2 linked regions of the Homo sapiens genome follow. The protein of the gene in region 1 interacts with the protein of each later gene in a pairwise test. Each region holds a gene or a part of one and is shown in the gene's direction. Other genes may lie near its edges.

What was found. The genes of interacting proteins can lie anywhere in the genome.
Region 2: the proteins of SYTL5 (region 1) and WAC interact in binary tests that used the Homo sapiens proteins (3 or more experiments, as listed by UniProt).

What each region holds. Positions count from the first base shown.
Region 1 is NC_000023.11:38,121,455-38,128,567, forward strand, and holds part of SYTL5 (synaptotagmin-like protein 5), read left to right. Parts: intron 1-625; coding exon 626-761; intron 762-3,843; coding exon 3,844-4,052; intron 4,053-5,133; coding exon 5,134-5,276; 3' UTR 5,277-7,113. UniProt on the Homo sapiens protein: May act as Rab effector protein and play a role in vesicle trafficking. Binds phospholipids.
Region 2 is NC_000010.11:28,613,118-28,620,117, forward strand, and holds part of WAC (WW domain-containing adapter protein with coiled-coil), read left to right. Parts: intron 1-1,449; coding exon 1,450-1,568; intron 1,569-3,055; coding exon 3,056-3,245; intron 3,246-4,539; coding exon 4,540-4,667; intron 4,668-6,419; coding exon 6,420-6,489; 3' UTR 6,490-7,000.

The sequences.
Region 1 (7,113 bases):
AAGAATAAACAGGTTCATATATGTAAGGTGCTTAAAACAATACTAAATAAAGGTGCTGGTTGTGATACTGGTTTATATCATTCATGTTGAATGTATTTCATAAGAAAAGAAAAGTGAGGTGGAAAAGAGATTTCTCTCACCCTAAAACGTAACTGTGTTTGGGCTGTAGCCTCTAGAGCTGGCTCTGACTAAAACTGACTATTTGTAAGACTAAAATATCAAAGGGAGTTATTGAATTTTCTCTTTTTGAGTTTTGGTGCATGTATATTGTCTTCATCATAGTTATTTCTCACTAAGAGCAGGAATGGTGCTCCGGGAAACTCTTAGGCATTCCATGCCTTTATACCCTGTGAAAAGATATGCTTTGTAAGGGAGTGTTTAAAGTTTTAAATTTATTTCTTCATTTGTTTCAACAAATACAAATGAAAGACCTATCTGGAAGGAATCCAATGGGGGCAAAAATGTTTAAATGAATAAAAATATACAATAATGTAAAGGCCCAAATTAGTCAGCAAATGAAATATATGTTTGTAGATGATCTTTGTAAATTTTGAAATGGAACTCATGATTTATCTATTTTTTTTTCTCTTTCTCCACCATTCCCTCATTTTGGTGGCTGACACAGGAAATAAGACTTTTAAAAAGGGAAAGAAGAAGGAGTCACCTGTAATCTCTGGAGGAATACTAGAAGTGTTCATCAAAGAGGCAAAGAATTTGACAGCAGTGAAGTCAGGAGGCACTTCTGATAGCTTTGTGAAGGGGTAACTTTGTTTTAGCTCTTTTTGGATGATACTTAATAGGAGATGAAAGGATCTGTGATCCACAAGCCACTGGTGGCTGTGAGCCTTCCGTGTTCTGTTTACTAGAAGTGTATGGGTGAGAACTACCCTTACATGCTGGCTCTTACATCTAAAATAACACAAGTGTTGAGGGAACTGCTGATTCTAGCTGTCACTCTGTTTCCAACATATTTCAGGAATTCCCATCACTCTTACTCTCAAGACAGTCAACTTTTTTCTGTAAGATTCATTTATCGAAAGTGGACAAAAGTATGATTTCCTATGTATAATGTATTTATATTGTTCTTTATTATCATTTTGTCCTGGCAATATGCAACAATCACCAAAATATCAGATCCTTGATATTTTTCTCTCTTGGGGGAAATTGTAAAAAGTAGAGATGTCAGAGCATCCTTGCTGGACTTATTCACTGTCGAGTGCTTTGGAGAGGCTCCAAGACCACCTGCTAGGCATTTGTGCCCAAGTTGTGGAGCAAAGGGCAGCTTCCTGAGGGAATGCAGCCTTAAAATGGATACTTTTGCCTAACTCTAGGCAACTCAAACATCAAATCCCTTTTGATTCCTGACTACTGGATATTTTTCTCTTGGAAATTGAGAAACTAAGACTGCAAGGTTATTTTTCAGTCATTCAAACAAACACAAAATGCACATGTGCCAAGCACCAGGTGCTATGCTTTCAAAAATAAATAACATATTATCCCTGCCCTCATGGAACTCCGTAAAGCACATAAGGTAAAACAAATTCCCATGATGCCAGACCATGAGGTTCATTCTTTGAGTCGGATGGCAATATTGTTCCTCTTCACATGCTGTATTGGAAAAGAGTATTTTTTCCTACAAGGAAATGGGTTGAGCTCACTCTCACATGTTATTTGTTGTTGTTGTTTGTTTTTGTTTTTGTTTTGAGACAGAGTTTCACTCTGTTGCCCAGGCTGGAGTGCAGTGGTGCCATCTCGGCTCACTGCAACCTCCGCTTCCCAGGTTCAAGTGATTCTCATATCTCAGTCTCCTGAGTAGCTGGGATTACAGGTATTTTTATTTTTATTTTTATTTTTAGTAGAGACAGGGTTTCACCACATTGGCCAGGCTGGTCTTGAACTCCTGACCTCAAGTGATCTGCCTGCCTCGGCCTCCCAAAGTGCTGGGATTACAGGCATGAGCCACCGTGCCTGGCCACATGTTCTAACTTTGGTAAAGCTAGTAGTGGGGAGAAGCAGTTCTGGGGCCTCCCCATTGGTGAGTGTGTATGCCTGAATCCTGGCACATCTTCCCTTCACTCTTCCTTGCAGTAGATTTAAGCATAGAAGAAATGCTTTCTTTGGATACTGCAGTTACAATTTGTGTCATTAGCCCTACCATCCAGTTTAAGCTTCTGCTGCTGGAATGAGGAGATGACTCCCAACCCGTGGCCACATTGTGACCTTGCAACGGTACTTGACATCTTCTGGAGCAGTATTCACTTTATCTTGTGGAAAATGTATAAAGCAGAAATAATAAAAGACAGTATTTTTGTTCTAGAAAGAAAAACAAAAGCCAATAACTTTCCGGTAAATTCTGTCTATAATAATACTTAAATATTAGGCTGATTCTAAAAAGACATGAGATTTTTTTAAAAGACAGTGAGGGAGCAAGAATAGACCCTCTGTAAAGTTTAATAATATAAAATATATCCATTAACATTAGGTCGGTCTGTGAGCCAAAAGAACAGTGGCTTAAACAAGACAAGTTTTTTTTCTCTCTTACATGTAAACAAAGACTGAAGGTAAGGTCCCCAGTGCAGGTATGGAAGCATCATGATTATCAGGGACCCAGGATTTTTCCATCTCGTTATGGTATCCACCTAATGGGTTAGGATAGCTGCTCCTGTTTCAGCTATCCCACACAAATTCCAGCTGACAGGACACTTTCCAGATGTAAGAAGTAGTTTTATCAGCACTACTTCTTATATCCCATTGGCCAGAACTCAGTCACATGGCTATTCCAGCTGCAAGGGAGGTTGGGAAATGTAGTCTTTATTCTGGGCAACACTGTGCTCAAATAAAAACACAGTTTTTTAGAGGAATATAAGGAGAGAATGGATATTAGGAGATAATAAGCAGTCTTTGCTTGGTACATGAAATTAAATCTTAAGTGACTTAATGTATCTTCTTTATTGTAAAGTCATTTGCTTGTAGCACTTTTCGTTTTTGTTCCATGTACTAATTCCATATGTACATATGTCTTCTTTTCTAAAGTATGCTCCCTGAAGGGGGAAAACAGCCATTTTTATCACATACCTAGAGCCTCATACAGTGTTTTGACCATAGTCGAGAAAACCTAGGATACAGGCGTTTTATTTGAAGACAAATTTCAGGAAACACCAGTGAGGAAGTGGAGAAAATGAAACAAGGAAGAAAGAGAAGTTGATTAAAACATATGTTAATGGGCAGGTTACCACTGTGGGCAACTGGAGCATGATTCCACTAGGGAAGCAGTGAGGAACTCTGTGGAATATACCTTAGGATTGTCACTTTGAGGGACAGGGAAGATGGGGAAATTATCCACCAATTTCTCAAACTCATCAGTTAAAAGTTGCCCCAGGGGTATTAAATTCCAAGTAATCCCAGAGTTTCCTACACATAAGCTGAGCCAGCTAACACAATATCAGATAAATTCCTTAATTAGAGGAATTTATTCCTTGTATCAAGAGACACAAGCACTTGAGGTGGGAAGCTGAAAGTATATCAGGAACTTCCCATCCTGGCTGCAAGTCAGCTCCAAGGAGGCCAAAAAGATTTGAAGCAAGGCATTCAATAGTGTCTATTACAGGAGGTATTTTCTTTTCAAGATGGAAGGAAGGACCTAAATAAGATTAGAAAGGAGAGTGAGGGCATTTTACTAATGTCCCACTGGGAAGAAATAATAAGTCAGTTCACTATATAAATCCAGATTTAAGCATATAGAAGCCTGGGAAGGAAAATCAAATAGACACATCACACTTGTGTACACGCTGACATTTTCTGTCTGCTGTCTTATTGATGATTTGATTGTTTTTTCTCATGCAGCTACCTGCTCCCTGATGATAGCAAAGCCACCAAGCACAAAACTCTGGTAATAAAAAAGAGTGTTAACCCTCAGTGGAATCATACATTCATGTTCAGTGGCATCCATCCCCAGGATATAAAGAATGTTTGCCTAGAACTTACTATCTGGGACAAGGAGGCCTTTTCCAGCAACATCTTTCTGGGAGGAGTTCGTTTGAATTCTGGAAGTGGTGAGGGATTTGGGGACCCACAGGGATGGTCTGTGACTAGGCCCAGGTGGGGGCGCTATTCTTGCAGATGTGATGTGCAGTGGATGTATATATATAGTTTCAGCTAAATCCTGAAATTACCACAAATACTTCATTCCTTTAGCTAAGGATCTATTCATTGTTAAAATACAAATATAACTACAGTAACTTTGTATCCTTAGGCTAGAAGATTGGAAGATATCATATTTATATTCAATCCTTTCATAGACTAGCATTTACACCTTAGTCTAAGTGAATTGTAAGTACTTTCTTGGGCCTTGCTTCATATTTTGCTCAGGGGATGATTACCAAGACAGCATAGGCTTCTGATGGGAGGAGAGCGACTTTCAAGACCAACATTACTTCATCATCTTCTCAGTTCTGTCCAGCACTTGCAGCTATTATTCATACTGGTTGAATTGAAAGGAAATCATTTTTTCATAAAAATAACACCAGTATTGTTAAAAACAGATCAAGGAAACCCACCACTGGTGCCACAAGACGCAACTGTAACAGGGTGAATTGGAAGAGGGATTACAGTAGTAGAGCACGTGCATTCCCCTAACTCTCATTATCCCATAGCCTAAGCCAGACATAGATGAGACCATCAGCATACACCATGGTAAACATTTCTGTTGAGGAAGGTCCTATCACTATGATAATTACTTATTTATAGATTAAGGGGAGCCAAAAATATCTATACCACTAAAAGGAAAACTCCCCAGGTCAGAAAAGTGCCCTTGTTAGAAAAAGAGAGCCAAATTCATCCCATTCTTCTGTCATGTTAGCACAGTCCAGATGAACCAGCTCTCTGCTAAAGTAGGGAGGAAGTGAGTCACCAGGGCCACCCCGATTTGCCTCATATGGCCTAGGCATTAGAGAATAGTGCAGGCTGAAATGATTGATTGATTCAATTCTAACACCACTCACTATATATACTAAGTGAGAACAAGCCAGTAAAAGGTACTCTGGTGAAAAGGCCTGCTCAGAAGTTGATAGATACCTTGCAGGAGAGCAAAGCATTTCATGTGTGACATAAAATTTTCCCGTTTCGCCTCTTCAGGTGTGAGCCATGGGAAGAACGTGGATTGGATGGACTCTCAGGGGGAAGAGCAGCGCCTTTGGCAGAAGATGGCCAACAACCCTGGAACTCCCTTTGAGGGTGTACTCATGCTTCGTTCCAGCATGGGAAAATGTAGGCTCTAAAGGGACCAGTTCTCCAAGAATGAGGCCACCAGGACCTATCTGGCTGTCTTTTCCTACCATTAGCAAACTGAGACCTGGGATTCTGCTTCCCTGCCATTTCTCACCTGACAGTGTTGGGACATGAGGGGAGAGATGTCAGTAGTATGAACATTTAGGGTCTTGCTGAGTGCCTAAAAAACATATATTTCCATCCAATCAAGGCCTTCTTGATTGGATGATAGAAAGTGTACTACTTGTCCTGTCAACAAGCAAATTGTGCAAAGGCTTATAGGGTTTATGCCATAAAAGAAATGGCACAAGCCTCCATTTGCTAATTATAAGTTACTTTAGATTTCCTCAAATCCTTTGAAGAGAAAGAGGACCACTGAGAAGGTAGATCACTTGAAAAGTCAGAAGAAAGGATACTGGCCAACTTTTACTCACCCTAGGAATCCACATGATCTCAAGAAGGCATGGTGGAGATGGTTGCTTGAGCAAGGGGATTGTCCTGTTATTGCAGCAAACTTGTGGATTAACCAAGTAGTATTTCAAGATGGATTGACAGGGCTTTCTATGATTACTATAGAATTTATCATCTAAATCAGTTTACTTTTTAGAACAAAGAGAGCTAAATAACTACATCAGAACGATTGATGTTGATTAGAATTGACCTGGGAAAATTGGGATGTAGGGTCACCCTACTGATGACCTAAGAGAGCTCTGTTTTAAACATTTATTTTATAAAATGTTCTAAGCCATTAACTAAAAGGAAATGAGATATAATGGTCAATTGATATACCTTTTCACATTGTGTTCACTGACGAGACTAGTTTAATGAAAAAGGAGGTACTCTACCTGCTATTTTACTTCTGTTCCTCTTCTGCCCTGTTATGGGAGAGAATCAAAGACTCCATCTGCTCTCTTCCCCCTTGTTTTCTCCTTCACTGAGTTTTTCTTATCTCCTTTTGCAGTGGTTAACTATTGTCACAATAATGCTGAATGAAAAAACACACCAAATGTCAGTGGCTTAAAATGACCATCCTTTTTCTCACAGTTATGAAGATTGGCTATGGCACCTCTGCTTCCTGCTATAGGCCTGAGGTTCTAGGGCTTCTTATGCCTCATCCTCTTTAAGCCAAAGGGATAGCCAGAGCATCTTGATGGCAGAAGTGCAATAAGATGAGCCCCACTGCTCGGGTACATTTTCAGCCCCTGGTTGTGTCATGTCTACTGATATCTCATTGGTCAAAGGAAGTCAGAGGGCCAAGATGAAGAGGCAGGGAAATATGCACTGCCCACAGTGAAGCCATGACAAGAGTGAGGATGCAGGAAGGCATGAAGAATTGGGGCCAACAGTTCAATCTACCATACCTTCTCTCACCTGGAATTCCAGATGCTTGAGCTACGAAACTTAGATGCAAAGAAAGTTAAAGCTAGAAGGAACCTCAGGCCCAGTTGCTCATTTTGCAGATTCCAAATGTGAATTTCAGAGAGCTGAGATAACTTGCCCAAGGCCATATAGAGGCTGTGACTAAATCTGGACTTAAATCCAGACTATCAATCTTAGGCCAGTGTTCTTTTTTCAATATAGTCCTTGGCATAATGCTATGCTTATTAGGTAGATAAAAGGGCTTATGTCAAGAAATTTGGAGCAGAGTCTGATTACTTGAGCATGAACATACCCGACCAAGGTATGTTCTGGAGTCATATTCTAGCCTCTGAGCTCATTTTTTCATGCGAGTTCATATAAAATCCTCGAAAGTTTAGAAACTAGGTTTTAGTAGTAACGGAGCTAGAATCATCTTCGGGCTTATTCCTGCTAGTTGTTCCATATTTCTAGATTTCATCTTGAATTTTG
Region 2 (7,000 bases), on another chromosome or scaffold:
TTTGCTGGGGGAGGCCGAGGCAGGCAGATCACTTGAGGCCTAGAGTTTGAAACAAGCCTGGCCAACAGGCAAAACCCGGTCTCTACTAAAAGTACAAAAATTATCTGGGTGTGCTGGCACAGACCTATAATCCCAGCTACTCGGGCGGCTGAGGCATGAGAATCACTTGACCTGGGAAGTGGAGGTGCAGTTGAGCCAAGATCACGGCACTGCACTCCAGCCTGGGCAAGAGAGTGAAACTCTGAAAAACTTTCTTGGGCATGGTGATGTGCACTACTCAGGAGGCTGAGGTAGGAGAATCACCTGCGCCTGGGAATTCAAGGTTGGAGTGAGCCAAGATCACGTCACTCTGCACTTGAGAGTAGGCAACCAGACTAAGACCCTGTCTGGAAAAAAAAAATCCTTTAAGCAGGTAGCTGTTCGTTTTTTGTGTTCCAAAAACTTCTTCAAGTTGTTTTTAAAATAATTGAACATTTGAGCTTTTATGTAGTGCTTATAAAATGTTCTTTATAAGACTTGACTAGAATTGATAGGTAATATTCAGAAGTTAAGCAGGACATTCCAGATTTGTTAGGGAGAATTATTAATCATATCCCCTCACCCCACCAAAAGAAAAACAGCAGTGAGGTGTGACTTAATCACAAAGGACTCCATCTGCCTTTGTGCCTCAATTTAGAGCTTATATTTTAAACTGCTTTTCTCTATGTGGCTTCTGAATATAATACATATCCTGATTGGCAATCATGGACTTCAGTCTACCTCTGTAGAGTAACATCTCTTTGAAAAACTCTCATGTTGAACTTTATATGGGCCATAACTCATTTTCTGATAGCCCAATCACATATTTCTCCATATCATTAAAATCTAAGCATCCATATGTGTATGATGTGGTAGCATACATAATTTACTTTTATTGATATAAAAGTAACAGTAAATCAGAAGAGATAATAATGTATTGGAAAGAAAACTGAGCTGTAAAGGAGAACTAGTTACTTTTTTTTTTTTTGAGACGGAGTCTCGTTCTGTCGCCCAGGCGGGAGTGCTGTGGCGCGATCTCCGCTCACTGCAAGCTCCGCCTTCCGGGTTCACGCCATTCTCCTGCCTCAGCCTCCCGAGTAGCTGGGACTACAGGCGCCCGCCACTGCGCCCGGCTAATTTTTTGTATTTTTAGTAGAGACGGGGTTTCACCGTGGTCTCGATCTCCTGACCTCGTGATCCGCCCGCCTCGGCCTCCCAAAGTGCTGGGATTACAGGCGTGAGCCACCGCGCCCAGCCCTAGTTTGATAGGGAAGTAATTTTATGACCTTGGGCCATTTTCACAAAGAAATGAGATCTAAGTTTCAGAACTTGACTGCCACATTTTACATGTTTCAAGACGATTACCTAGATTTTGGGGGGAGAGATGTGGATTAGATTTGGAGACCATCTCACCAGATTTTGACATTTCAGGTTAGTACTCCAGTAGTTAAGCAAGGACCAGTGTCACAGTCAGCCACACAGCAGCCTGTAACTGCTGACAAGCAGCAAGGTCATGAACCTGTCTCTCCTCGAAGTCTTCAGCGCTCAAGGTAGGTTGATATTGTATATTGAGACCACATTGTTTTATTTAATGATGGTACACTGCATTGTTTGAATATTATATCTGTAAAATAGAACTTAACCTTTAAACTCCATGAATACCCTAAAGTAGGCTTACATGTTGTAAAATTTACAAAGACAAACCTGTATACAAGAGGTAGGTTATTGTCTCTAGTAGTGAAGCCCGGGTTATTTTGAAGAAAGTGGCTCTTTAAAATTTTACACAGTGGAATATGACGGGGCTAAAGATTTGTGATACTTGTACCAGAAAGGCACACGATTTTACAATATTTGTTGGAATTACCTTACTTTTTAACCTCCTCATAGCAGTTTTGGTTTGAGTATATTGATGAAAGCCAAAGTCTGGTATCTAAAACTTGGGCCAATGTTTCCCAACTGGTATATGTCAGGCTTTCCCAATAGCTTAACTGTGACCCTATACGGATGGCTTTTTAGATAGTTCTATACTGCTGTATTGTGTTAGCACTTTTCTTTGTTCATTAACAACACAACTTTAAATGACATTTGTTGAATGAATGGTTTTCATTTGATTGATTTTCCTGTTTTTTATTTCATGCTATGAGGTAGCAAAATAATTCAACTGTTGTTTTTATTGTTGTTTTCTAAACAAGCATTTCAGAACTTACACCTCCAAATGAGAGTTGTTCCCTTCAAAATAATGACCTTGGGAAGCTGTCTACTTACTCCAGCAATGTTGCCATTGCTCTGAACATTTTTGGGAAATTCTTCTTTTAAATTGTTTTTAGAGGCTGCAGTATTATTTTAAATATCCTCAGTGATGAAAACTCTTCATCCTTTGGGAGATTTAGTTTTTGGAAATAACTGAAATTCATTCAGAGCCAAGTCTGGTGAAGCAGGTAGGAGATCAACTTGGGTGATTAAATTTTTTGGTTCTCACCACCATATCCCCAACCCTGGCCCAAACCATTCAGTTTTAAAAGAAGATAAAGAATCTCAGAGTGTTATTTTTTTGGTTTTGTTTTGCCACTGTGCTTGTTCAGTGCTATCCAATAAAATGTCTGTATTTTGCTTCACATTATTTCACCCTCTGATTCAGCAGTTCTGACGTTGAACAAAGGCAATATATATTTTCCCCTTATCTAGATGTGTATGAGCAGTCTTCAGATGTGCATCTACAGCTGTTAAAATGTGACTTTTTTTAGTTATATTATTAGTGTTTGTGGTACACAAAGTTAACAGGTTCTGCTCTCAGATTTGGAGAGTAGTTTACATTTGACTCTGACAGTAGTGTTAAAAGGGTTTTTTCCCCCTAAAGTGTTTTGAGGAATCATATACTTTGGATTATTAATTCTCTTTATTTGACATTAAAATAACAAATTTTTCTTAGGAATTTGGATATCTTTAAGTTAATAAAAGGTATTAACATGCAGTTTCTAGGATAAGGATACCCAGAAACTACTTTTAAACATACTACACATTCAATTCTGTTTTCTAGTAGCCAGAGAAGTCCATCACCTGGTCCCAATCATACTTCTAATAGTAGTAATGCATCAAATGCAACAGTTGTACCACAGAATTCTTCTGCCCGATCCACGTGTTCATTAACGCCTGCACTAGCAGCACACTTCAGTGAAAATCTCATAAAACACGTTCAAGGATGGCCTGCAGATCATGCAGAGAAGCAGGTATGTTATGTACAGCCTAGATTTTACCTTTGGATGATTAGCAAAACAGAATTTAATCAACTTCTAGAGAATCTAATGTGACCACTGAATTCAAGCAATATTTAAAATAATGAATCTCTAACTTTGTAGTCATTTAAAAAATATTTGATATATAAGATAACTTTTCTGGTTTTACAAAATATTTTAACATAATTATAGGCACTGTTGTCAAGTACTCAGCAGTTAGCTCAGTGCTTAATGCCTTATATTTATTTTCTCTACTTCTTAAAACAGCTAAGCAGTGTAGATAGAGTTGAAGTCCTTAAGACCAAATAGTGCATAAGACCTTGATCCCAGGGTCACCCAGTTAACAGTGATGTGGCTCAAAGCCAGTGTACTTTTTCCACTCAGCTTCTCTGATAGTTTCAGATTCCATTAGCACTGTTAATCTACTGGCCAAGCGCAGTGGCTCATACCTGTAATCCCAACACTTTGGGAGGCCAAGGCAGGTGGATCACTTGAGGCCAGCCAGGAGTTCGAGACCAGTCTGACCAACATGGTGAAACCCCATCTCTAACCACAAGTATAAAAATTAGCCAGGCATGGTGGCATGCACCTGTAATTACAGCTACTCGGGAGCCTGAGGCACCAGAATTACGTGAACCCAGGAGGCAGAAGTTGCAGTGAGCCGAGATTGCACCACTGTACTCCAGCCTGGGTGACACAGTGAGACTCTGTCTCAAAAAAACAAAAAAAAACCCCACTTAATTTTCTATGACTCTCTCACTAGACTAGCAACTGGAAGTTAGGAAACATTTTTGCTTTGGGATGAGAGACCTTAGGACATTCCAGTTACTGCCATTTGCCTCTTGCTTTTTATCAGATAACTGACCATCTGGGGTGTTCGAAAGTTTACAGAGAATATGTTGTGTGTCTTACGATAGAGGAGTATAGTGAGGCTCTTGAATCAATATCTAATACCTGAACTTGCAGAAATGACAATCTCTTTGGCTGACCCAGCATCTTTTATTAACCACAAATTATGAGTCCTTTCTTAGTGCTGTATTAGCTTCAGGTTGGAAATCCTATTTTCTCCAACTTAGAAGAGAAATATTAAAATAAGTACCTTCCACCCTTAGAGACAGTTTCTTAAAACAAATTAATTTTCCCCATTAGGTTCACCAGCATTTTTGTGTATTGAAGGGAAAAGGATTATTCTCTAATCCTAGTATAAAATTGTACTCAGAAATTTAATGTTTTATTTTGTGTATGTTAATGTTTATATTTTATGTTTTCTTCATTTCTTTAATTACAGGCATCAAGATTACGCGAAGAAGCGCATAACATGGGAACTATTCACATGTCCGAAATTTGTACTGAATTAAAAAATTTAAGATCTTTAGTCCGAGTATGTGAAATTCAAGCAACTTTGCGAGAGCAAAGGTAAGTCTTTCACTGAAATATATTTTTATGTTTCTCAGGATTATGATTCTTAAATCGAACTAAAGAATGTAAATCACATTTTATTTATGAAATGTAAAGTTCTCTTCGATACATTGATCACATTCTATCACTGCATTTTCATAAGTTAATATTTCTCGTGAAGGATAAAGCCTGTCGATTTTCTCTTAACCCATGATGAATGCTTCATTAGACTTTTCTCATAACTCCATAAGCTGCAATAATATATTACTGAAAAAATGAAATATTGACCACAACTAATTATAAATGTCCTCTCTTGCTGAGGGTGTTTCCATTGAAATTTCAGATTATTTGTCCTTGCATCATCAATAGATCCCTTGAAAAGTATAGAAAGAATTTGTCTAGCAAGTTTAGTGTATCTGCTGTCTTAGTATTTTTCACCTGAACTCTTGTCTTGTATTTCTTAATCTAGTGTTTCACTCAAGTAGAATATCTAGGTCACAATAATAATAGCATAGGTATTATTTTTTAATGCCTATTACAGAATTGAGGACAAACTTGGCAATGGCTTTATGTCCTGTCTGTGCAAGTCACAGAGTTACAGGTCGATTGAATCTTGTCAAGAAACCATAAATATTTAGTAAATACCAAATGGAGTTTATAGTACAACTTGAAAAAGTAAGTTTATTTACAGTTACTAAAATATCTGGAGGTACTCTCTGAGTAACAACTTGGGTTCTTATAGTCAGATTGCTCTGAAAGTAGTTCTAACAAACTTCATTTTGGCTTGTTACATCATTCGACTTTTGGGAAATTATTCATTATTGCATCTTAGGAAAACAGTATATACAGTCAAATATCAAGCCAGCCTGATTATGCCTAATTCATGTGTACAGGCAATAAATATTATAGTTCCCAGAAGAGAAGAGTAAAAACAGGAAATATTTTTACGTTCATGGGAATCTGGGTAACTGGGGTTTGTGTGTTTCAACTTTTGGTTTTTGGCTTCATTTTTATGTACCTACATCTACATTGAGAATTGCTCTTCTAAATGATTAATCTCTTACACCTGGTTAATTCTACTCTTTACTGTATAGTGGGCCAGAAAACATGCAGTATAGGTTTATTTCATGTATAATAGCTACTGCTTTCTTTATTGTGATGATACGGTTTATAAAGTAATACATTTTAAGTTGTTAGAGCCAAAGGAATTATTAAGAAATTGTTAGAAAAGGCTGGGCGCGGTGGCTAACGCCTGTAATCCCAGCACTTTGGGAGGCCAAGGTGGGCGGATCACCTGAGGTCAGGAGTTCAAGACCAGCCTGGCCAACATGGCAAAACCCTGTCTCTACTAAAAATATAAAAATTAGCCGGGCGTAAGGACAGGTGCCTGTAATCCCAGCTACTCAGGAGGCTGAGGCAGGGAGAATTGCTTGAACCCGGGAGGCGGAGATTGCAGTGAGTCAAGATTGCACCCCTGCCCTCTAGCCTGGGCAACAGAGCAAGACTCTGTCTCAAAAAATAAAATAAAATAAAAAGTTGTTTGAAAACTAAAACATCCTTTCATCATCCTTATACTTTAATAGATATTATGTATTAAATGTTTACTTTGTCTTAACTGTAAACCAATTTATAGTTAAATAATTTTTTAAATTTCTTTGCCTTAATTAGAAATCACTTGTTTTAATTTAAAAAATTTTAATTATAAAAGCTCGGGTTTTCTGTAATATTTGTATATGTACACAGGTTCTAATGTCTGCTTTTTTTTTTCAGGATACTATTTTTGAGACAACAAATTAAGGAACTTGAAAAGCTAAAAAATCAGAATTCCTTCATGGTGTGAAGATGTGAATAATTGCACATGGTTTTGAGAACAGGAACTGTAAATCTGTTGCCCAATCTTAACATTTTTGAGCTGCATTTAAGTAGACTTTGGACCGTTAAGCTGGGCAAAGGAAATGACAAGGGGACGGGGTCTGTGAGAGTCAATTCAGGGGAAAGATACAAGATTGATTTGTAAAACCCTTGAAATGTAGATTTCTTGTAGATGTATCCTTCACGTTGTAAATATGTTTTGTAGAGTGAAGCCATGGGAAGCCATGTGTAACAGAGCTTAGACATCCAAAACTAATCAATGCTGAGGTGGCTAAATACCTAGCCTTTTACATGTAAACCTGTCTGCAAAATTAGCTTTTTTAAAAAAAAAAAAAAAAAAATTGGGGGGGTTAATTTATCATTCAGAAATCTTGCATTTTCAAAAATTCAGTGCAAGCGCCAGGCGATTTGTGTCTAAGGATACGATTTTGAACCATATGGGCAGTGTACAAAATATGAAACAACTGTTTCCACACTTG